7 linked regions of the Homo sapiens genome follow. The protein of the gene in region 2 purifies or fractionates together with the protein of the main gene of each other region. This does not show direct contact. Each region holds a gene or a part of one and is shown on either strand. Other genes may lie near its edges. The genes, in order: POTEJ, CAT, AGPS, TYSND1, MYO1B, NUDT19 and ARMC9.

What was found.
Region 1: the proteins of CAT (region 2) and POTEJ purify together in Homo sapiens (affinity purification with mass spectrometry; one large-scale study listed by BioGRID and IntAct). This does not show direct contact.
Region 3: the proteins of CAT (region 2) and AGPS purify together in Homo sapiens (affinity purification with mass spectrometry; one large-scale study listed by BioGRID and IntAct). This does not show direct contact.
Region 4: the proteins of CAT (region 2) and TYSND1 purify together in Homo sapiens (affinity purification with mass spectrometry; one large-scale study listed by BioGRID and IntAct). This does not show direct contact.
Region 5: the proteins of CAT (region 2) and MYO1B purify together in Homo sapiens (affinity purification with mass spectrometry; one large-scale study listed by BioGRID and IntAct). This does not show direct contact.
Region 6: the proteins of CAT (region 2) and NUDT19 purify together in Homo sapiens (affinity purification with mass spectrometry; one large-scale study listed by BioGRID and IntAct). This does not show direct contact.
Region 7: the proteins of CAT (region 2) and ARMC9 purify together in Homo sapiens (co-immunoprecipitation; one large-scale study listed by IntAct). This does not show direct contact.

What each region holds. Positions count from the first base shown.
Region 1 is NC_000002.12:130,610,045-130,614,239, reverse strand, and holds the start of POTEJ (POTE ankyrin domain family member J), read right to left. Parts: upstream 2,801-4,195; 5' UTR 2,708-2,800; coding exon 2,298-2,707; intron 1-2,297.
Region 2 is NC_000011.10:34,441,934-34,445,433, forward strand, and holds part of CAT (catalase), read left to right. Parts: intron 1-3,500. UniProt on the Homo sapiens protein: Catalyzes the degradation of hydrogen peroxide (H(2)O(2)) generated by peroxisomal oxidases to water and oxygen, thereby protecting cells from the toxic effects of hydrogen peroxide.
Region 3 is NC_000002.12:177,391,612-177,395,572, reverse strand, and holds the start of AGPS (alkyldihydroxyacetonephosphate synthase, peroxisomal precursor), read right to left. Parts: upstream 2,801-3,961; 5' UTR 2,784-2,800; coding exon 2,524-2,783; intron 2,519-2,523; exon of another isoform or gene 2,449-2,518; intron 1-2,448. UniProt on the Homo sapiens protein: Catalyzes the exchange of the acyl chain in acyl-dihydroxyacetonephosphate (acyl-DHAP) for a long chain fatty alcohol, yielding the first ether linked intermediate, i.e. alkyl-dihydroxyacetonephosphate (alkyl-DHAP), in the pathway of ether lipid biosynthesis.
Region 4 is NC_000010.11:70,140,591-70,143,700, reverse strand, and holds part of TYSND1 (peroxisomal leader peptide-processing protease), read left to right. Parts: intron 1-847; coding exon 848-1,033; intron 1,034-3,110. UniProt on the Homo sapiens protein: Peroxisomal protease that mediates both the removal of the leader peptide from proteins containing a PTS2 target sequence and processes several PTS1-containing proteins.
Region 5 is NC_000002.12:191,409,404-191,412,903, reverse strand, and holds part of MYO1B (unconventional myosin-Ib), read right to left. Parts: intron 1,839-3,500; coding exon 1,732-1,838; intron 1-1,731. UniProt on the Homo sapiens protein: Motor protein that may participate in process critical to neuronal development and function such as cell migration, neurite outgrowth and vesicular transport.
Region 6 is NC_000019.10:32,711,557-32,714,292, reverse strand, and holds the end of NUDT19 (acyl-coenzyme A diphosphatase NUDT19 precursor), read right to left. Parts: intron 2,542-2,736; coding exon 2,336-2,541; 3' UTR 501-2,335; downstream 1-500. UniProt on the Homo sapiens protein: Fatty acyl-coenzyme A (CoA) diphosphatase that hydrolyzes fatty acyl-CoA to yield acyl-4'-phosphopantetheine and adenosine 3',5'-bisphosphate.
Region 7 is NC_000002.12:231,205,131-231,208,630, forward strand, and holds part of ARMC9 (lisH domain-containing protein ARMC9), read left to right. Parts: intron 1-1,067; 5' UTR 1,068-1,108; coding exon 1,109-1,159; intron 1,160-2,996; coding exon 2,997-3,122; intron 3,123-3,500. UniProt on the Homo sapiens protein: Involved in ciliogenesis. It is required for appropriate acetylation and polyglutamylation of ciliary microtubules, and regulation of cilium length. Acts as a positive regulator of hedgehog (Hh)signaling.

The sequences.
Region 1 (4,195 bases), on a different chromosome or scaffold from region 2:
GTACCACTGTTCTTCATCCTCACAAACTTTGTGGATAGAAAACAGTATTTCATTCCTTTTTTTTTTTTTTTTCTTTTTTTTTTGAGATGGAGTCTCACTCTATCACTCAGGCTGGAATGTAGTGGCGCGATCTCGGCTCACTGCAACCTCCACCTCCCTGGTTCAAGCAATTCTCTTGCTTCAGCCTCCTGAGTAGCTGGGATTACAGGTGCGTGCCACCATGCCCAGCTAATTTTTTGTATTTTTAGTAGAGATGGGATTTCACCACACTGGCCAGGCTGGTCTCAAACTCCTGACTTCATGATCCACCGCCTCAGCCTCCTAAAGTGCTGGGATAACAGGCGTAAGCCACTGCACCCGGCCTTTCATTCCTCTTCTAACTTAAATAGAAAGCAGTATTTCATTCCTCTTCTAACTTAAATTCCTTCTTCTACCAGGAACACTGTATTTTCCTATGTGCATAGGTCACTGGTAGATATGCAAAAAAAGTACTTTGCCCAATTTTAAAATGAGCTTATTTTATTATGTCTGCATATATACACCAGGCACGGTGGCTCACGCCTGTAACCCCAGCACTTGGGGAGGCCAAAGTGGGTGGATCACGAGGACAGGAGTTCAAGACCTGCCTGGCCAAGATGGTGAAACCCCATCTCTAGTAAAAATACAAAACAATTAGCCAGGCATGGTGGCAGGCGCCTGTAATCCCAGCTACTCAGTAGGCTGAAGCAGAGAATTGCTTGAACCTAGGAGGCAGAGGTTGCAGTGAGCCGAGATCACACCACTGCACTCCAGCTTGGGCTACAGAGTGAGACTCCACCAAAAAAAAAAGTATATATATATATATATATATATATACACACACACACACATATATATGTATATATATACACACACATATATATGTATATATACATATGTATATATATGTATATATACATATGTATATATATGTATATATACATATGTATATATATGTATATATGTGTATATATATGTATATATATGTATATATATCTGCGTATATAAATAGGCATTTATATTTTTTCTGGTATGTTTCTCCTTTTGTATGTTTAAAATTTTTAATCTATACTCTTATTTTTGTGACATAAAAATCTAGCTAGTTTTCTCCAAAAATGAATTATGAACAATCCATCTTTTTTAAATAATACAAAACATCACCATTATCAAGTGCTAAATTCTTACATATATTTGGGTATTTCTAAATTTCCTATTCTGTTCTATTCATTGATGTCTTTTCAGCTGTTAGTAAACAATTTGTGGAAATAAATAACACATGCACATTTTGATATCTGGAAAAGCAAGCCTTTTTCCATTCTGTTACAAAAAATTAATTTATCACAATAATAAAAGACAGCATGTGTAATTTAAAAACGCTAAAACTTTGCTATTTTTATTTGGCTTATGTAAAAGTGATAAATAGAAAAAGCTCACATCTTTTTTTTTTTTTTTTTTTTTTGAGACGGAATCTCGCTCTGTCTCCCAGGCTGGAGTGCGGTGGCACTATCTTGGCTCACTGCAAGCTCCGCCTCCCGAGTTCACGCCATTCTCCTGCCTCAGCCTCCTGAGTAGCTGGGACTACAGGCACCTGCCACCGTGCCCGGCTAATTTTTTTTATAATTTTTAGTAGAGACAGGGTTTCACCGTGTTAGCCAGGATGGTCTCGATCTCCTGACCTCGTGATCCGCCCGCCTCCCAAAGTGCTGGGATTACAGGCATGAGCCACCGCGCCCAGCCAAAAAGCTCACATCTTAAGAAAATTCAATCTTCCTATTCAAGCACAGGAACCATCTTCCCATTTCAGTTTCCTTCTAAGGTTCCTCAGTAAAGAACGTATTTACATAGGGTACATTGATATAAAATCCATACTGGATTTTATTTGAAGAATATTTAGCCCTGAAGTTGATGTGTTATGGGGCTTCATTCTTAGTTCTCAATATACACTTTTCTATAATGTATAGAACATTGTTTTAAAATCTGTAGATTAAAAATAATCTGCTGCATTGACTTAATTAATTTTGCAAGTTAAATCACTTTAAAACAGTCTATTAGTGTTCTACGAGGGAAATTATAATTTGATTGGAAATCAGCTAAAGTTTTTTTTGTGTGTGTTGCTGTTCATAAAGGGGCCTGTGCCCTGACCTCTCTGAGGTTTCCACAACCAGGGTGGTGTGAGGCCTGCGGAGGTGAGAAAGCCAGGTCCCCCTCCTCCCCCGCCAGGAGGGTATGTCCCCATCATCCCCCGACCTCCCACCTCCTCCCAGCCCAGGCCTGGTTACCTCTTTTGCTTGTCCTGCTTGTTCACGTCAGTGTCCCTGAGCATGACGATCAGATCCTTTCTGGCGACTTTACCCCACCAGGCAGCTCTGTGGAGCTTGTCCAGATCTTCTCGACGGACGTGGTATCTCGGCTCCACGAAGGCGCTGTCGTCGTAGTCTCCCCAAGCACCCACGTTGCTCTTGCCGCTCCCCCTGCAGCAGGGGAAGCAGTGGCAGCACCACTTGCCCATCTTGCTCCTGAGTGTCTTCATAGTGGAGTCGTCCTGGTCTCCAGAAGTGCCCACGTTGCTCTTGCCGCTCCCCCTGCAGCAGGGGAAGCAGTGGCGGCACCACTTGCCCATCTTGCTCCTGAGAACAAATGGCTTCTTCACAGAAGAGGCAGCCGGCATTGAATCAACCTCAGCTACCATCTGCTTTTAACAGCCTGGGGAGGCCGGTAGTAGCGAGCAGATCACGTCTACCAACCAGTTTCACCAACTAGCAGGTAACTCCGGGTTTCCAATCTGTTTGAAGAGAAAAGTCAATCCCAGCCAAAACCTGCCAACCCCAGCAGGTAAGCCCAACCCACCCCACCCAGGGAAAACCCACACCCACCCGGGGAAAGCCCACGCCCACCCGAGGAAGGGCCAACCCCCCCCCCCCCAAGAAAACACCCAGCCCACCCAAGGGAATGCCAAACCCAGCAGAGAAAAGGTCAAGCCTAGCAAGGGAACGCGAGAGAGGAAACGCCAATCCAAGGAGGAAACGTCAATCCAAGGAGGAACACCAGGCCAAGCGACCAACACCAAGCCAAGCAAAGAACGCAAAGCCAAGCCAAGCCGCTACAGGCCAGCCAAGCAGTTACCCGCGTGCAGCATGCGCGTGCAAGCCGTTACAGGCCAGCCAAGCCATTACGCGCGTGCGGCGTGCGCGTGCAAGCCGTTACAGGCCAGCCAAACCGCTATGCGCGTGTGGCGTGCGCGTGCAAGCCATTACAAGCCAGCCAAGCCGCTGCCGCGTGCGCGTGCGGCGTGCGCGTGCGGCGTGCGCGTGCGGCGTGCAGCGTGTGCATCTCAGGTGGCGTCAGTGCATGTGGCACAGACAGTGGCCAATGCGTGCAACCGCGTGTTTAAATCTTGGCGCCACGAATGTCACCGACAGCCTTATGTTCCTGGCAAACTTCATGGGAGTCAGCTGAGCTTTCAGGCCATTGAGAAGCCTCTGGTGAAAAAAAAGCCTCTTGAAGCAGGACTGGGGCTAAGCGGCTGGAACTTGAGGATGCTGACAGCCTCCTCTGAAGAAAGCCCCCGGGACACTCCTGGCGGTGCTGTTGTGCGTGGCAGCGTCTGCAGCTCGGAGCTGGGGCTGGAGGAGCTGGCTGCAAATGGCCTCAAAATCCCGGAGCACAAGATGCCCACTGAGCCCAGCGCCTGCCTGAGGTGCCTTTGACACCTGGTCCTCTTTGCTCTGCACCCAGAACACGAGGCCATCAGCGAGGGGGCATTTGGGGCCACAGGATCGCGGCCAGCTCCTGCCCCGGTGCCCCCTGCCCGGTGTCCAAGCCAGGGCCAACAGCTATAGGGCTTCTGGCCTGGGGGGCTCTGCTCCACTGGCATGCAATAGGGTCAAGGTGCAGACCGCTGTGTCCACGCCGGCAAGAGGGGGCTTGGAGGAGCAGTCACAGGACAGTACTCTCCCCTCCTGTGGATGACTCCTTCCTGCCCTTTCCTCTCTCTGCTAAAGCCTCCAACGTTCTCTGTCCCATCCATATGCTCCACTTATGCCCCTGCTTTTGCTTTGATTTTCTCATTAAAATAAATCTGCAGGCTGGCTGGGTGCAGTGGCTCATGCCTGTAATCCCAGAACTTTGGGAGACCGAGGCAGGTGGATCACCTGAGGTCGGGAGTTCGAGACCAGCC
Region 2 (3,500 bases):
TGAGCCTTTTTCCAAAGTGGTTGTACCATTTTATACTTCATCAGCAGTGTATGGGAGTTCCAGTTGCTCCACATCCTACCAACTTTTGGTGTTGTCAGTCTTTTACATTTAGTTGTTGGGTGTGCAGTGGTATCTCATTATGGTTTTAATTTGCTTTGCTCTGATGACTAATGATGCAAAGCATCTTTTTACATGCTTATTGACCATTGGTATATATTCCTTTGAAGTATATGTTCAAATTTTCTGTCTTTTTAAAAATTGAATTGCTTTTAAATTATTAATTCATAGCCCATATTTTAAGTTCAATCATGTGGAATCATGTGTAGGCTAAGTGTTATAATAATAAATCTCAACATGTATCATGGTATAAACATATTAGAAATTTATGGCCGGGTGCAGTGACTCACACCTATAATCCAGCACTTTGGGAGGCTGAGGTGGGCGGATCACCTGAGGTCAGGAGTTCAAAACTAGCCTGACCAATATGGAGAAACCCTGTCTCTACTAAAAATACAAAATTAGCTGGGCGTGGTGGCACATGCCTGTAATCCCAGCTGCTTGGGAGGCTGAGGCAGGATAATCACTTGAACCCTGGAGGCGGAGGTTGCAGTAAGCCGAGATCCTGCCATTGCACTCCAGCCTGGGCAACAAGAGTGAAACTCCATCTCAAAAAGAAAAAAAAAGAAATGTATTCCTTTCCTACATGAATGGCCCAAAGTGGTTTGAGGTTGAAGGAGGTGGGTGGGTGCTCTGCTTCCCACAGTTATTGAGGGCACCAGGCTGAAGGAAGCTCCCCCTTGGTCAAACATGGCTTTTATGGGCGTCACTGTCCAGCACAGAAGGCTCAAGAGCGTGGAGAAGGGTATATGAGTGTGGGAAGGTTTAGGGTCCAGGGTCACTGCCACTTACATTCTGTTGGCTAGAACTCTGTTACAGGCCACACCTGGGGTAGTCTACCCCCTGTCCAGGAAGCTGACTCTACTATATTATCCAAAGCGTACATTTCATATTTGGTGAAAATCTGTCCAGCCATTTTCTTGTGATGCGGCAATGGACATGCAACATAATTTCTTTTTAAAGAATATGTCATTTTTACTTTCTGACATTAAGATATTCTGTTAGAAAATTATGACAGTAACAGATGGTATTAAAAAAAAATCTCCCCTTGCTTGGTAAATGCTTTTATCTAAGTGGGCAGCTTTGTGCTAATATGATGTCTTCCACTTCCCAATTAGTTGTGATGCTTTACTGATCTAGGAGAGCTTTATGGTTTGGGACTACTATAGGCGAACACTCTGTTGCCTCCTCTCTCAAGAATCAGAGTGTCCTATTTTGGAAACACAGTCAACCATGTGAAAGCAATTTATTGGGCGTATCTTCTGTGGTCAGATTTGGTTTGCTGACAGGTGAATTGGGAGTTTTGTAAACTTTAATAAGTGAGCATTGAGTCAGATGTGTTCATGAGTATGACCTCGATCCACTTAAAAATTCTTATTTCTTTTTCTCTCTTGGCAGGAGGGAGGTGGTTGTGCAGGTATTCCCAGCCACTTTGAAGGGAACTTAAATGGGAACTTTATTGCTCACTGCTTAGAATGCCATGGGCTCTTCTTTTGAGATACTTACCTTTAACCCATTTCCTTTTTTTTTTTTTAAGTGCAGCTTGCTGCCAGTGCTCTTTTCTTGGGGGTAAATGGGAAATGTTAATAAGTAGCCTCTGATCCCTTTAAAATGGGAGAATTTGAACATTTCAAACCTTACCTTTTTATACAGTTCTCTTATTACCTGGGAGAGAGGTTAAGTCTTAGACTATCCATTTCTGTCAGTGAGTTGCCTATGCATTATAGCCTGTGAGGGTCTATATTTTTTTAGGGTAATCCTGGTAATAACTGCATTGATGTTACACTGCTAACATTTGGGATGGAGAAGGGGTGACTGAGTGACTTAACCCTTGGTCCACATGTGCTTTCATTTCTCCTGAAATATACCTAGGTATGGAATCGCTAAGTCATTATGTGCAGTGGGAGAGACTATGGGAGATGGGACAGAAATTTTTAAGGTTTCATTTCTTTTTTTTAGCTTTTGCATGGTGGGTAGGTCTATGCAAACCTACCCCCAAAGTCTGAGGAAGCTGAGAGGCCAAAGAAAGAGGCTGACAAATCAAGTTTCTCAGAAAGAAATGTTTAGTAGGGACTTAGGACCAGAAACCATGTCTGTGTCTTGCGTGTTGGCGAGACAAGATGGTGGATCCCATACCATTACCCCTCAGACCCAGGGCTTAATACCATAGGGAAGGGCGATTCAGAAGGGAGGTATGGCATGACTGAAGTATGATAATGTCAAGGTTGTTTGACCTCAGGGCAGGATTTATAGTAAATAGGGGCTCTTTCACAAGGAATAATAGATAAACTGGAAATCTTAAAACTGGAGTTAATCAGAAGTCAGCATGGTGGATCAGTATCTAAGACGGAATTGCTTTAGCTTCCACAGCAGTCAATATCTAGACCACCCTTATTATTTTCCCACAGACCAAGAAATTTGAAGGTCAGGACAGTCTTTGGTTTCCTGTACGTGGGTGTATACGTTGTAGGCACTTGAATCTTTGTTGAATAAATGGAGAATGTTAGGCAGTTATTTGCTAGAAAACGCTAGGCACATTCTTTATCACAGAATGAAAAGACGTCATTATGACTCCTCTGGGACTGATGGGCAATTTGCATTAACCAATCTTTTAATTAAAAGTGGAAGAATATGTTTAGGTTCTTGAAACTTCTGTGAGTGAAGGGAACTACTAAGTGGAAAGTGTAATATGTTGATAAAATATTTCACCAGATGAAGCCAACCTTACTCCTCCCAGGAAAACTTCTTCATTTATGTATTAGCTCTGGCCAAAAGAAGCCTATAAAGGCAGCAAAGTCAAAATAGAATTTTACTTTAAGTCCCTACTTCTAATAATTGTGCTAGTTTTTAGCCAAGCTAATTTCTGTGGCAGTTTTCATAACAAGTGTGTCTAAAGGTGTTTGATCAGAATTTATAAATTAAAATATTTCTCTCATTTTTTGGAGGGGCGATGCAGGGAGAGGGATAGACTGTTGCTGCTTCCTCCTGCTTGTTAGAAAGGCTCTTGGCCATATCATATTGGTCCGTGGTTTAGTTTATTTGCATGCTGAATCCACACACATTTGTTTTATGTTTGTTAGTATATTGAGCAGTGTATTAGGGATCAGGTATATAGATGTAAAAGGAGTACACAGTCTAGAGAGGAAAAATAGTGACAGGCTGGGCGCGGTGGCTCACGCCTATAATCCCAGCACTTTGGGAGGCCAAGATGGGCGGATTTCTTGAGGTCAGGAGTTTGAGATCATCAGCCTGGCCAACATGATGGAACCCTGTCTTTACTAAAAATACAAAAATTAGCTGGGTGTGGTGGTGGTCGCCTGTAATCCCAACTACTTGGGAGGCTGAGACGGGAGAATTGCTTGAACCCGGGAGGAGGTGGAGGT
Region 3 (3,961 bases), on a different chromosome or scaffold from region 2:
AGGGAGACTTGGGTTCCTCATGATTATCTATCAAGTATATCACCCTCTGTGGAAGCTTTTGATGTGTCATCTAATACAAGTTTCTGTGTTCCCTCATATTTTGATGAAAATCTCAAAGTACCAGTACAGGACTAGATTTTACCACTAGTCGTCTAACCCCGAACCAAAGACCAGGGCTTCCCACCAGCTGTAACCTATGCAACAAATGGGTTACAGTCGTGCCTGAACTATCGATGCCTTCAGTCCTTGGAGCAGCCACACAGGGCATCCCTGACCAGTCACCTTCAACCATCATCTTGGTGTGCCTTACAAACGTTACTATTTTTTCTCTGAATGCTGTAAACCAAGCCATTAAATCTAACCATAAGGAAAACCTGCCCTCCTTACTTGGTTCTAAGAGTGTGAATCTACATAAAATGTACAATCACATATATGCATACAAATGAGAACACATAAATGTACATGAAACCATTTAGAAAATTTTAAACCTAATGACAGCTATTAATAATATAACCTCAATTGAAGCCAGGAGACGAGATGAAATCCTTTATTCCTCCCCTCCCCACCACTCAGTAACCAAGTTATGGAAAATTTACCTCCTAGCATTTTCTCAATTAAGTTGCCTACTCCCAATAATATGCCTTAGTTCAGAATCCCAGCATTTCTCCCTGGAATAATAGTCTCCTAGTCTCTCTGCCTTTAGACACTGTGAAAATTGCAGCTACCATTCTTTGAAAGGTTATGTAACAGGCATTGCACTAAACACTTGATCATTTAACTCTATTTTTTTCAATTCTCACAGCAACACTGCAAAACAGGATTACTGTTCCCGTTTTTACAAATGACGGTGACTGAAACTCTCAGAGGTTAAGTGATTTGCCCAAGATCATAGAGCTGTAACGGTGTAGTGGAAATTGAAATCCAGGTCTATGTTCCCAGCCATTATACTGCCAAAATGCTCAACTGTCTTCAATTTGCTCCCAGTGTGACCTTTATCAAAGGTAAATCTAATCATGTATTGCCCCACGTAAAATCCTGTAAACAAGATTCACCTCTCCAGTCTTCGTCCCCTGTCATTCTCACCCTCTCCTACTACACTTGAGTCTCAGCAGTTCCCTAATTTGTCTCTCACTTCTTTACCTGTGAACATACTGTTTGTATGCCAAGAACAATTTCCCCCTTTGGCAAACTATTAGTAATGCAAACATCCAAAATTTACTCAGACAATCTTTACTTTGGAACATCTTTGCACTAACAAACACAAACCCAAAACTGGGTTAAATGACCAGGTGGTATAGTTCCCAGTTAAGTTTCTTATAACGCTGTATTATAATTTTACCTACTAAGCTATTCCTTCCTTAAGAGTAAATACCGTATTTTTAAATTTCTGTATTGCTGGTACAGTGTGTATTTTGTAAAGACTCATGTATGTTGAATTAATTCATCAGAAGCAAGTATAGCTTAGGAACTTGGCCATGAAGTCAATTTGATGTGCTTTCAAATTCTAACCTGTCACACAGCATATCTGCTAAGACTCCAGCAGACTTAATTTATTCATCTGTAAAATGGGAGAAAACCGCACATACCTCATAGCTTGGGAAGAAACAAAGGATTTAGCACACTTTGGCACACTTAAAAGTACACTTTAAACATTAGCTACTTATTTTTTTCACTCTCGGTTTATCCATTTATCCACGGTGACAAAGCCACACGTCAGAAAGTAGCTTCTCCTAATAGCCTTCATCAGAGATTGAGGAGATCGAGACCATCCTGGCTAACACGGTGAAACCCTGTCTCTACTAAAAATACAAAAAAAAAAAAAAAGATTTCTCCAAAAACATCGAAAGTCAAGATCTCTTACAAACATCCCTCATCGGTTAGACTCTTGTCTTTTAGCTTCTGGTTACACAGAGCTCAGTAGCTATACCACCACACCTTAAACCACTAGCTAGTGTTTGCAGTTTATGGCTTCTTACCATTCATCGGTTTCCTCCCTCAAAGTCAATACATCTTGATCCTAAGCAAGTGGAACTTACCCCACAGAAACCAGTCAGCACCTTTTTCCAGGGCACCACCAGTTTCCCCCACAGCAGGCTTTCGCGAATGAGAGAGATTCCTATGATCTATCATCTAGTACAAATTTATATCTCCTCGGAGAAAAATAGAACCTCTGCTACCCATTCCAAGACCTCAGCACCAAAAGTATTAATTCAAGATAAAAAATGAATTCCTGGCACTAAAAGCTCAGGAAAAAGGAATCCTTTAAACCCTTCTCCAACGAGAGTTCTTCAAGCCTGTTACCCTCACATAGTGACCAAAATCCACCATCCCATCCCGCCCCCTTCCTGACAGAATCCAGGGTCTAGTCCACTCTCTCGAAAGAGAGGTGGGTCCCTACTTTCAGGGACCGGGATGCCTTCCGCCCACCCGTGTCACTTCCCTTCCCACCTCGCCTGTGCCCTCCTGCAGCACAGGCCCGGCCTGGTCCCTCGACGCTAACTCCTTCCACATACCGCTACTCACCGCTTCTTTGGGATGGTGCCCGACTCCTGCGCGGCGGGAGTGGCCGTGGGCGCTGCCGTGGCCGCCGACGCGGCTCTCCGCGCTTTGCACTCATTGGTACTCAGAGCCTCCCGGGGCCGGCCCAGCAGATGGCCAGAGAGAACCCGCAGCCTCCGCCCGGCGCGGTCCGGGTCCGGGTCCCGGTCCCGGTCCGCTGCAGACCCGTAGCTCGCGCCCGCGCCCAAGCCAGTCCCACCCGCTGCAGCCGCCGCCTCCGCCATGGCTACCGCCTTGTGCTGCCGCCCGGAACCGCTGGGCGCGGGTGAAAGGTCACTCAGAGCGGCGCCCGGCGCGACCATTCGCTGCGGCGCATCCCGGCAGCCACCGCGGCGACTTGGCGGCGGGTGCCATGCGTCTGGAGCTTCACATTCTCTGCCCCCCACCCACCGCGCCGGCGCTCCCTTGTCACGCCTCGGGAAGCGCGCACCTGCCAAGCAGGTGAGTTCGAGCTGACTCCCGGTTGGCCCAGCCCGGTCCAGCTGGACCGAGAGCCAAACCACGTCCGCCCTCGAGGTGTCCTAGAACCCTGGGTGGTGTCCTCGGGTGTGGCCTGGGGGCTTTCGAGGGCAGATGCCTTGGAGCAGGAGAAATGGGCAGTGCTACTGGACCTGATGGATCCAGCGGCATCCTTTTCCTGAAAGAGATTCTAATGTTCCACCTGTGCTCTTCCTCCCTGCGGGGTCACCAAAGTAACTCAAAGCTGACCATCATTGCCTCTAACCATTAGAGCAAATAGCTCTATCATTTTCTTATTTCTCACCACCTATTTCGTGCCTGGCACTGTGTTTAATGCTAGATCACAAGTAAGTACAGAAACTGAGTTGCAACTTAAGTTCTCATTTCATTCATTACTGGATCCTAACCCCTTCCTAACTTTAATAGAGATAAAGTTTCTTATTGCTACAGACAAAAATTACCCAAGAGCTGTGAAGACATCTCAGTTATTTACAGATTGAATTCATTTCTGGAAGATAGCACGTGAAAAGTGCTCCTCACCTGTTTCAGCCGGTGTCTTGCATAAGAATTAGCTTAGACAAAAACTCACATACACTGGCCATTGTCATTCTCCATCCTGTCACCACTTTCACATCATGCTTTCCTAACAAGAAAAATATTGGCAGAGGAATCTGAAGAACACCACATCCATGGGACTAGAGACTAACAATTGCTCTCTTGGGTGTTGCCAGCTTCTAAAATTGAGATTATGCCTTTAGAGTGAACTTCCAAAGAGGCCCAGACTGGTTAAAAACTCTCAATTAAGGGCTAAGCAAATTGCTGTTGGAGGGCCAGCTCTAGTCTGTGGCCTGTTTTTACACAGCCCTCATGCTAATGGTTTTTGTATTTGAGAAGGGTTGTTAAAAGAAAACAAGAAATTTTTTAAAAGAATATGCAACAGAGA
Region 4 (3,110 bases), on a different chromosome or scaffold from region 2:
TGGTGGGGCACATGGAGTGCCCTGGGAAGGATAATGCTGCACGCCCTTTCCCCGAGTGCCTGCAGCAATGTAGTGTGAGGATGCTGGGCCTTTGGGGTTCCTTAACACTTCAGGCTGGTCAGAGAGGCATGTGGCACTTTCAAGGCTCCAGGGGCACGATTTGGGTAAAAGGCTTTGTGATGCTGCCACATAAGTACTGATGTTGCACTCCATGGAGGCAGTGTGATACAGTGATGAAGGGTCCAGGGGCTCTGGATGGGCATCTTTCCTATGCCACCTATTAGTCCCATGTCCTTGGACAGGCTAGTTAACTATCCTCTGCCTCATTTTCCACGTCTTTGAAATGGGGCTAATGCATCCTATTTCTGGGTGTTGTGAGGGCTGGGTGTGACGTTGCCTGTAAAGCACTTACCCCCATACCCTGCACTTGGAAAAGGAAGGTCATGGCTGCATTATAGCCATCATCACCATTTCTTTTCACGAAGAGACTTCTTAGGAGTTCCAGGAGGAGATGGGTGTGAATTCCACAAACATTTATTGAGCATGTAGGTAGGTGTTAGGAACTCCTAAAAGTCACTGCCCCGCCTGTCCAGGGAACAAGGACTAGGGAACAGCCTGTTGCTCAGAAGTGGTCATGCAGATACAGTGCTAGGAGCTCAGTGGAGTTCTCAGCCTCTTCCAGCCAGGGGACATGGGGAAGGCTCTCTGGAGGCAGGAGTATCTGAGCAGAAACTTGAAGGGTGGAGAGGTTTGGAATGTTTGGAGAGGGTAGGGATGGGAGTTAGGGAGTGTGAGTCCTGCTGTAACACAGGTGTCCCCAGCTTCACCCTCCTTCCTTCCCTGGCAGGCGAGGCTGTGAGTGTGGTGGGCTTTGGCGTCTTTGGCCAGTCTTGCGGGCCCTCGGTGACCTCAGGCATCCTTTCGGCTGTGGTGCAGGTGAATGGCACGCCCGTAATGCTGCAGACCACGTGTGCTGTGCACAGCGGCTCCAGTGGGGGACCCCTCTTCTCCAACCACTCAGGAAACCTCCTTGGTAACCAGCTCTTTGGCCCCCTCCCGCCCTCCCACTTGCCAGAACCTCAGTCCCACCCCATGAGTGCTTGTGGCCAGCCCCAGTGCACCCTCTGTCTGGGAAAATGGTGGGCATTATGAGTGAGCTAGCGAAGGTTTGCAGGCTGTTCTCCTGATGGTGGAGAGGGACGGATGCTGGACTGGGAGGAAAGAGATCTGGGCTCTGGTCCCTTCTCTGCTACTAATCTAATCTGGTTTGATCTGTGAAATTGAGGAGTTGGATTAGTCAAAGCGTCACAGACTCAAAAGCCAACAGAGGCTGGAAAGATAAAGCAAATGAATGAGAAGACAACAGGGAGGGGAGGGGAGGGGTCTAAACTGAAGCGCACTCGACTCAGCTGCTGCAGACTGTGGCCATGAAGGAGGATGGGCCTAACGTTGGCTGGTATTCTAATATTTTCACAAGACATGTAAAGCTTTTTTAAAAAAATACATGTGGCCGTTAAATCGATCAATTTTTAAATTTTGGTAACATTCAGGTTTTTAAAAAACAGTCTGTTTAGCTGTCAAAAAGAAAAAAACATGAGTTCATCTAGAAACCTCCAACTCCAGTCCAGTCTAACTCTCCTTGTTTCTTCTTTCTCCTGTAGTGAAAAACCTTGCTCTTGTTGTCTACAATATGTTTACTTATCTGTTCCATCCTAGTATACAAGTAAAATTGTATTTGCATAACTTTAGTATATTTCCTCTAAATATTTAGTACTTACAAAGAGGAAATATTGGAGCCGTAAGTAATATTTAGAGCCATAAGTCTAGGCCTGGTGTGGTAGCTCGTGCCAGTAATCCCAACACTTCCGGAGGCTGAGGCAAGAGGATCACTTGAAATGGGAGTTCGAGACCAGCCTGGGCAACATAGTGAGACTCTGCCTCTATTTTTATTTAAAAAAATTTTTTTTAATTAAAAAAAAAGAAAGGAAAATACTAAGTCTACCTTGGAGAGGCCTGGCAGATACCACCTCAGCCAAGTGATCAAGGTGAACGTCAGAAGTACTCCATACAGACATCAGATAGCTGAGACACTGGGAAGGACACATGGCTTTTATGGTATTCTTCCCAATAATGTGTAACCTTAAACAATTAAAAGTAATGGCAAAACAATTAAAAGTAATGACAAAAACCGCATTCATTTTTGCACCAACCCAATAGTCATGAGAAAACATTAGGTAGGCCTCAATTGAGGGTCATTCTCTAAAATCACTGACCTGAGCCAGACATGGTGGTATGTGCCTGTAGTCCTGGCTCTGCAGGAATCTGAAGTGGGAAGATCACTTGAGCCCAGGAGTTCAAGGCTGCAGTGAACTATGGTCACCATTACACTTTAGCCTGTGTGACAGAGCGAGACCCATCTCAAAAAAATAAACAGTGTTTATTTAAAAAAAAAAAAAAAAAAGCCAGGTATGGTGGCTCGCACTTGTAATTCTAGCACTTTTGGAGGCCAGGGCGGGAGGATTGCTTGAGTCTGGGAGTTCAAGACCAAGCTGGACAACCATAGTGAGGCCCCATCTCTACAAAATATTTTAGGGAGGCTGAGGCGGGAGAATCACTTGAGCCCAGGAGGTTGAGGTTGCAGTGAGCTATAATCCCACCACTGCACTCTAGCATGGGTGACAGAGCGAGACCTTGCCTCTAAAAAAACAAAAACAAGAACAAAAAAAAAAACTGTAAATAAATAAAATAACCTGCACTTTTAAAAATGTCAAGGCCACGAAAGATAAGGAAAGACTGAGGAACTGACCCAGATTGGAGGAGATTTGGGAGATGCGACAACTAAATGGAATATGGAGTCCTAGACTGGATATTGGAACTGAAAAAGGACATTAGTGGAAAAACTAGTGCAACTCATGTCAATGAGTTCTGTAGTTCACTTAATAACAGTATTCTACCAAGGTATATGTTTTGGTTTTGATAAATATTTTTTGGTGACATTAGATACGAACATAAAGGAAAGCTGGTCAAAGGGTATATAGAATTCTGCAATATTTAGGCAAGACTTCTGTATGTCTGAAATTATCTTTAAAAAACTACACACACATCCATGC
Region 5 (3,500 bases), on a different chromosome or scaffold from region 2:
CTCTAAATGGACAGAAGTAACCAAAGCAAACATTCAGAATCAGGGCAATTTTTTTTTTCCCAAACAAACTAATTTTTGTAAAAGGTTAACTGTACACTTATCACTAAGATATCAATTTCCCTAAAGACTTGTCGGGGGACTCTTTCAGGACAGGTTCATCAAAGGCACCAAGGAAAAACTGCTGCTTCAAGGAATCTATAAGCTTCATTTTGAGCTACAAAGTTCTGGCAATTTGCAAATACAAATTTAAATGCTTATGTTGTGGGTGGAGGATAAGGGAAGAAAAATCCACGTAGGTGGTCAGCGTTTCACAGCTCTCAGGATATAAAAGGCCAACTCCCATAAGAGCTGCCACTTTGCAGGGTGGTGGGAGGCTAAATTATTCCACCTCTCTCACTGCTGTGGGGTGAGTGTGCCACTATCCCTGAAAACTGATAAGACTACCCAAAAAGGACTTGGCTTGAAGTTAACTTTTTTTGGTTCCTATTCAACTGTGTTTTAAATTATAAAAATGCTAACAGGCTTTTAAATTGTTTCCTCAAAGATGTATTTTCCAGCCTGTAGTTTCTGAAGAGTCATCCACAGGAAATGTTCATTAAGAAGGTTATTCCCTAATTTAAAAATGTATAAAAAAAAAGCTGAATAAAATTAGTTGCTGAAGCAAGCATACAGACAAATTCTCCTGTTTGAATATGCTTTATATAACAGGCACTTTGGACAACTTTGGATTTAGACACTGTGTTTGACTTAAGGGAGTATGTATCACCTCAAGTAGCCACATCAGCTAACCAATGAAGTTGTACAATTTAAAATATTTAAACCCAGTGAGTCTGGCAATGTATATTCCTTTAATCCTTTAAAAGGAAGATATTTTAAATGTGTATAAAGTCACAGAGAATATAAACATAATTTACGTAATAAATGTGAATATACTCAGCATATAATACATTCTTTCTTTGGCCATTCATTGGAAGAAGCTTAAAGTTGTTACAGATTTGGCTTGAAATTGTACAATCTACTTTTTTATAAACACCAGATGAAAATGGGATTAGATTGCTGGGAGGAAGTGATGAATGCAGGAGATGTAAGACTATTGGGATAAACAGTCTTTACCAAGGACTTCACTTGCTGAACTTGGGATTGGTGTTCCTTCTTTTTCTGAGTCCACGGTGTCTAAAATAAAGGAACTGAACGTGCTGTACAGGCCACAGAAGTCATATCCGTTGAGTTAGCAGACCAAAGGGCACCACAGACCAGTGCTCAAGCAACACTCAAAAAGTACTGTCCTGGCTCGCTCTTTCATTTACCTTACAAATAAGTTTCTGACCTTGCTTGCTATGGCAGGAAGACTGGAATGGTGATTAAAGTATATTGCCAACAGAAATTTGGCTAGTCTTTGAAAACTACGGAAAAGGAACAGGAATTTACAATGCAAACGTATCTTAACAGCCTATATAATTTTTATGTTAAATGACTTCTAATTATTTAGTAAAGTGTTTGAGCTAATGCTAATGGAGTGAAACCAACAATCGTAACCTCATTTCATTAAACTGCACTATAGAAGCCATAGCTCAAATAAATGTGTTTACATCAAGCTGATTATAAAATGATTCACAGAACTAAAAATCACTCATCTAAGACTGAAATCAAACACCAGGCAAAACGGCGTACAAATATACTTGAGAAACTTTTATAATCCTGAATTTTATGGGTAAAGCAAAGCCATAATACCTAGATGGGTATAAAGCCTTCTTGTCTTTGAAGAGTTCACTGGCTTCTAGTTTCTCTTCATAAATAAGTTTCTGCTGGTCTGTGAATTGGTCCCTGTATTTTTTACACTGTGAGATATGAGAAGAAAGAAACAAAACATCATTTATATAAATAAATTATTACTCATTCTTAAATATGCTAAGACAATTTATCAGCAACAAGAATAAGGGAGAAAGTACAAAACATTCACTAAAAAAGGCCAAAAACATTTTTCCCTTGTGGGTTTTAAAAAGTTTGTCTTGGAAAACGTCAGAGTATTATTTGTATTGCAGAACCTGGAATGCTTCTTCAAAACACACCAGGGCCTAGTGGGCACGGGCCTTGCAAGTACTATTTCCTCCCACTATGTCAATCCTTGGAAATCCTCTAGTCCTGAGGCTGTCACTCTTCTAGAGAGACTCACAGTAAAAATATTGTGCATCACAATCCACTAAGCACATTTCCACACACATACAGAGAAAACTGACACAAAAGCGTCACAAAACAATACTCAATCCTTTCTATATATTGTACACTCTGCTATTTTCTATTCTATTGCATTTTATTGAAAAACGCTGGTAGTAATCCACTAAATTGATTTCATGACCACAAATATGCTATGACAGTTTGAAAACCACTGCTCCAAATCCCCCCACTACCATTTTACAATAGGGATGAGGGACCTGAGATATCCCCTTTCACTCCATCCCTGAAGCTGCAATGAGAGGAGACAGTGGCCAGAGGAGCAGGGCCAGGTTTTTTAGATGAGCATTCCTAGAAATTCAGTTACAGGTGTGGTCAAGTGCTACTGAAATAATTGCATGAAGAAGTGTGAGCATTGCTGCTGACCCTTTCCATGGAAAGGCTCCCTTCAGGAATAAACAGCCCTCATCTCCCACCTCCAATCCAATGGAGGGATGGGTGAGATTGCAAAGCCAGGGGAGGGCAGAGGTGGTGCAGATCCCCAGCAATGGGAGCTCCCTGTCATTATTTCTGAAAACAGTTTCTGGGTTAGACTCAAGAAAGGAGACAAGCCATTAAGAGGTTCATGAACCTCGCCAAATTTGCTGTTAGAGAACAGAACTCAGAATCTAGTTCCTTATGTTGTATGGTACCACTTATCAAGCTAATCAGCAATAATGTCACTCTATACATAGATGATTCTAACAAAAAAACAAGCCCACCGTGCTGGGCAGGAAAGTTTCCTGGAGGATGTGTGTACTGAGCATTCATTTACTAAATACATGCCCTTCCATCTCATGATTTTATTACATCTGATAACTGCATATATTTAACATTCCACATATCAACTGACTAGGTTATCGAAGTAAGGTCAACATCTATACAAGTGCCCCACGTGTTCCATGCTGGGCAACATCTAAATTACATGCCATGTCCTCTTATACAAAATAAGAGAGCTAAAATAAAAGGCAGTATAAAACAGATTTCCAGCTTCCCTGTAATTTAGATAGAGAATGTGTTACTATCTTTAGGGACAGGAAAAAGCCTTTTTTCCCACCCATCAAAGTGTGTGTGTTCACATGTATTATCTGATTATCTGTTCTGTACATCTGATAAAGTAAACTCTTCAATTTGCAGGATTTAACTATGTTGCCTGAAGGTGTCCAAATTTTATGATTTCTCTGTCCTACAGTATTCCTTTAGACAAAGAGAGAAACAAATGAACAAAAAACTGAACTACTTGAGAGCAGCTGGAACCTGGAATGGAAAGAAAATGCAGCCCTGTGCTC
Region 6 (2,736 bases), on a different chromosome or scaffold from region 2:
GTAGATGGGGTTTCACCACATTAACCAGCCTGGTCTTGAACTCCTGACCTCAGGTGATCCGCCCACCTCAGCCTCCCAAAATGCTGGGATTATAGGCATAAGCCACTGCGCCCAGCCCAGCCAACTTTTTTTTTTTTTCCAATTGGACGTAATTTCCCATTTTTGTAGATTCAAAAGGCAGACAGAATAATAGTATCTGTGGTTCTCAAAATTTACATATTGGAACCATTTATTTAAAAAAAAAAAGATTTTACTTTAGATTGGGTGTCTCATCCTTGGTCAGGTAATTCTTTGCTATGGGTGAGACTGCGCATTGCAGGCTGTTCAGTTGCATCCCTGGCCTCTCCCTACTACTAGATGGTAGTAGCATACTCCCCCACCCACCCACTCTGCCCACAGTTTCAACAACCAAAAATGTTTCCAGACATAGCCAAATGTTCCCTAGGGCAAAAGTGCCCAGGCTGAGGACTGCTGTGCTAGATATAGTTCTCTAATCTGGATTTAATCATACACATAAACTTTATTCATCATTGTCTTTATGTTATAGTAGGAAAATTAAGGCATTTCATAAAATATGAAATCAATTGTACAATGCATGATACAGTCAAAGATCTGGACATGGAATTGGTGTCTTAACTATCATTTCTCACCTTTAATCAATAAACATTATTCCTCTTGAAAGATGATGAAAAATTACTCATATTAAATACAGTAAAAATAAACATCATTAATCAAACACTACATTTCTAACCTCTTTACATTCATTAACAGTGTGGAATACAAACAATGATGGTTTTTGTTATGGCTTTGTGTTTCTTTAAAATGCTAACTAGGCCAGGCGTGGTGGCTCAAGCCTGTAATCTCAGCACTTTGTGAGGCCAAGGTGGGCAGATCACCTCAGGTCAGAAGTTCGAGACCGGACTGGCCAACATGGTGAAACCCCGTCTCTACTAAAAATACAAAGATTAGCTGGGCATGGTAGTGGGTGCCTGTAATCCCAGCTACTCGGGAGGCTGAGGCAGAAAAATCGCTTGAACCTGGGAGGCGGAGATTGGAGTGAGCTGAGATTGCGCCATTGTACTCCAGCCTGGGCAACAGAGCGAGACTCTGTCTCAAAAATAAATAAAATAGAATAAAATAAAATAAAATGTTAACTAAAATCGATTTCTAATTTGGGAAACATAATAACTAATACCATTTGATTTTAAAAAGAATTGTATCTTAATCATTAAGCTAAAGACATAGCAAGAAAACAATGACATGGTCACTTGAAGGGTGTCTCAGCCAACTTTTCATCATCTAATAAGACACCCTTAAAGTAATTCCAGCAGAAAGTCTCAGAAATTCATTGATCAACCTCCAAAGCACATCAGGGAAGGTGCTAATACAGTGGATAACAAGAACAATAAACAGCAGAACATGTTATTTAAATTTTTGAGATAATAAAACAATACAGAAGTAGGAACCCTTGTGAAATTATGTTCTGGTTTTGGGTAATGAGATCATTAATACGTTATAAACTTTATACGTGTGGCACACTGTAAGGATTAAAGAATGGAATAAGCAAGCGAGCTCCCTAAAACACCTGATATAAGAAACACCATGCTGGGCACAGTGGCTCACGCCTGTAATCCCACACTTTGGGAGGCCAAGGCGGGCAGATCATGAGGTCAGGAGATCGAGACCAGCCTGGCCAACATGGTGAAACTCTGTTTCTACTAAAAATACAAAATTTAGTGGGGCATGGTGGTGCATGCCTATAGTCCCAGCTACTCAGGAGGCTGAGGCATGAGAATCGCTGGAACCTGGGAGGTGGAGGTTGCAGTGAGCCGAGATTGGGCCACTGCACTCCAGCCTGGGTTCTGGGCAAGAGTGAGACACTCTGTCTCAAAAAAAAAAAAAAAAAAAAAAAAAAAGGCTGGGTGTGGTGGCCCACACCTGTAATCCCAGCACTTTGGGAGGCCAAGGCGGGCGTATCACGAGGTCAAGAGATTGAGACCATCCTGGCTAACACGGTGAAAACCCGTCTCTACTAAAAATACAAAAAAAAATTAGCTGGGCATGGTGGCGGGCGCCTGTAGTCCCAGCTACTCGGGAGGCTGAGGCAGGAGAATGGCATGAACCCCTGAGGCAGAGCTTCCAGTGAGCCTATATCATGCCACTGCACTCCAGCCTGGGCGACAGATTGAGACTCTGTCTCGAAAAAAATAAAGAAATACTGAATTGCAGTAACTTTTATAGGCACAAACTTCCTTAAGTTTCAAGCAAATGAAAGTCAACCCTCATTATTCATGAGGACTTCAAGTAGGCCATTTTACAAACAAGCTTAAGCACCCTACAAATGGCTTTTTCTTACTACAGAGTTCTTAGGATAAACGTGTTTATACTTTGGCTGAACAGTCACGTGGATATCATAAAGGTGGCGATGGTATGTCACTATCCGGTGAAACTGCTTGCCTTCCTTCATGATTTCCTCAGTCTTTTTTTCAGTAGACATAAGATTTTCCAAAAAGTCTGAATCTTCTAAATATAGCTCATCACCTGAAAAAGGAAAAAATCTGATTTTATTTTTAAATACAAAATTATTTTTCACCATGGCAGAAAGTATAAAATTTTAATTCCATCGAGTATTATTTTATAAATCACTCCAATATACTAATGAAATACAAATCAGTATTTTTATCTATTTCATATGTTTGGAACTGAGATAGTTGTTAAATCAGTATTTATTTTGAT
Region 7 (3,500 bases), on a different chromosome or scaffold from region 2:
GCCAAGGCGGGAGGATTGCATTACCCAGGAGTTTGGCAGCTTAGTAAGACCCTGTCTCCCTGTCTCTACTTAAAAAAAAAAAAAAAAAAATTACCTGGGTATGGTGGCATGCACCTATAGTTCTAGCCACTGGGGAGGCTGAGGAGGGAGGATCCCTTGAACCCAGGAGTTTTAGCTTGCAGTGAGCTATGATTGCACCATTGCACTCCATCCTGGGCAACGGAGTGAGATCCCATCTCAAAAAAAAAATTCGATGAGTTCTGACACATTCTGAATTTTATAGATGAAGAAAGGCTCTGCACTTCAGTGAGTTGTCTCAGATCAGGTGCCAGTGAATGGCATGGTTAACATTAGAGCCCAGACCTTTTCATTCCTCTGGGGTTACGGGCAACTGCTTTGGGCTGAGCCTGGGGTGTGGGCCATGGGGAATGACTGCTTTGGGTACACCTTGAGGGAGGGCTAGTAGAAAGAGTAGGAAGAGTTTCTTTTGACTTTAGCCATTGTATTTCCTAGTGCCGCTGAACAAATGACCATAAACTGAGTGGTGTCAAGCAACAAAGATTTAATATCTTCTAGTTCTGGAGGTCAGAAGTCTGAAATGGCTTTCACTGAGCTGAAGTCAAGGTGTCTGCAGTGCTGGATCATTTCTGGATGCAGTGGGAGGATCTATTCCTTGCCTTATGCAGTTTTTAGAGGCTCCTTACCCTCCTTGTCTTATGCCACTTTATCCCCTTTAAAGCCTGCAGTGGCTGTTGAGTCTTTCTCACATCTCATCATGCTGGCACTGACCCTCTTGCCTCCGTCTGCCCCCCTCCCTCTGCTGTGACTGCCTTGGGCCCACCTGGGTAATCCAGGATCATCCCCCAATTTAAAGGTCAGCTGATGAGCAACCTTAATTCCATCTGCACCTTAATTCCCCCTTGCCGTGTAACCTCACGTATTCACAGGTTCTGGGGATTGGCGCATGGATGTCTTTGGGGGCCATTATTCTGCTCACCACAACCACCTTTTTGTAGTTTCATAGGTGGTTGAAATGAAAGCTGTTGTCTTGTATTTTTGCCTTCTAGAGATTTTTGCTGTGAGAATTAATTACCAGTAACAGTTCAATATGGGGGACATTCTGGCTCATGAATCTGAATTACTTGGACTAGTGAAAGAGGTAGGTATATTATACAAAGCAGAGGTCACAGAGAAACAGATCTTGAAAACTTGTGTTTTAAAATGCAACAAACTATTTAGTGCCTTGTAATGTTTCTTCTATTGTTATGTTGGAGCTATTTTTCTATTATATAATATTCCATGTATTTACATTTTGGTTTTATAACTAAACAAATCTTAAAGCCACTTAAAAAGTCCCTTGAAAGAAAATTATAAAAGCAATACACGTCCACGGTAAAAGATTCAAGCACTACAGAAGTATAAAAAGGAAATTTCCCTCCCAGACTTTTTTCTATGTATAGTAAAAATATATTCACATGCCTGTAGTTTGTTTTACAGAATGGGATGATACATTGTTCTGTAGCTTGCTTTTTATCTGCCAACAATAATATAGCATGAACATCTGCCTATGATCGGCCCTAGACATTTGAATGCCATAGAGTATTTCATTGAGTGGCTGCATCATAATTTTTTTAACTCATTGTCTGGTAATGGCCTAGGTTTCCTACGCTAAAAGCTTTGACAAGTAGGGCCCAGGCCTTAAACTTTCTGGTGCTAAAGAAATGGTTCGCGCTTGCTGCTGCTTAACTGTGTGAGTAACCACCTGCAGGTTGCGAGAGCCACGGGCCTGGAGCAGGGATGAGGCACCCACCGTGCAACTGCAGATTTGGAATTTGGTGGTGTGATGGCGAATATATTCTTTTTTAAAAAATTTACATTTAAAAATCTTTTTAGAGACAAGGTCTTGTTCTGCCGCCTAGGCTGGAGTGCAGTGGCATCATCATGGTTCACTGTAGCCTTGAACTCCTGGGCTCAAGCAATCTGCCTGCCTCAGCCTCCTGGGTAGCTGAGACTACAGACGTGCACCACCATGCTCAGCTAGGTTTTATTCTAATTTTTGTAGAGATAGGATCTCACTCTGTTGTCCAAGCTGGTCTTGAACTCTTGGCTTCAAGCAATCCTCCTGCCTCAGCCTCCCAAAGTTGTGGGATTGCAGGCATGAGCCACTGCACCCTACCTATATAACACATTTTCTTTTAAAAATTTATTTATTTGAGATGGGGTCTCGCTTTGTTGCCCAGGCTGGTCTCAAAGTCCTAGGCTCAAGCGATCCTCCTACCTCAGCCTCCCAAAGTGTTGGGATTACAGGCATGAGCCATGCCACCTGGCCTATACCATTTTTTCTTTTTTTTTTCTTTTTTTTTGAGATGGAGTCTCACTCTGTCGCCCAGGCAGGAGTACAGTGGTGCTTTCTCTGCTCACTGCAACCTCCACCTCCTGGGCTCAAGCGATTCTCCTGCCTCAGCCTCCCGAGTAGCTGGGACTACAGGCACGCGCCACTGCGCCTGGCTAATTTTTGTATTTTCAGTAGAGACGGGGTTTCACCTTGCTGGCCAGGCTGGTCTCGAATTCCTGACCTCGTGATCCACCCGCCTTGGCCTCCCAAAGTGCTGGGATTACAGGCTTGAGTCACGGCTCCTGGCCGGTAGTTCTATTTTTATTTTTTTGAGGAACCTCCATACAGTTTTCTATAATGGCCGTACCAATTTACAGTCTCACCAAGAGTGCACAAGTGTTTCCTTTTCTCCACATCCTTGCCAAGACTTTTTATCTTTCGTCTTTTTTGTAATAGCCATTCTGACAGGTGTGAGGTAATTAGGTCTCTGTGGTTTTGATTTGCATTTCTCTGATTGTTAGTGATGTTAAGCACCTTTTCATGTATCTGTTGGTCTTTTTAATGTCTTCTTTGGATAAATATCTATTCAGATCCTTTGGCTGTTTTTTAATTGGATTATTTGTTTGTTTTGCTGTTGAATTGAATTATTTATTTTTTATAGTATTTAGATTTTGCTGAATTTGAAGACACCTTGAAAACATTTTCAAAAGAATGCAAAATAAAAGGAAAACCATTGTGTAAAACAGTAGGCGGATCTTTCAGAGACTCCAAATCATTGACAATTCAGGTAACATTTTGCTTATTTTTCATCCCTGTAGATAATTCAGGATGCTCCCAACTTGTGGAAAATGCTGCTGTTGGATAGTGCTAGAATAGTTTTTGAGCACTTGCTCAGAGTTACTTTAGATGGCACAAGTGTTTATAGATGAACTAATAATGTCATTTTAAATCTCTGTACCCTCCCCAGGAAATGTGTGGCCATATAAGATCTTTCACAAACATTTCTTGGGAAGAAGGAAAAGAAGAAACCATGCAGTGTTTAGGAACTGAGACAATTGTAGCCTTCCTCCTGAGGAGTTTCAGGTTATTAATTCTAGGCACTGGGGATCCAGCAGTGAACAAACAAAATCCAGCCCCTTGCCAGCACAGCATTTGCATTCTAGCT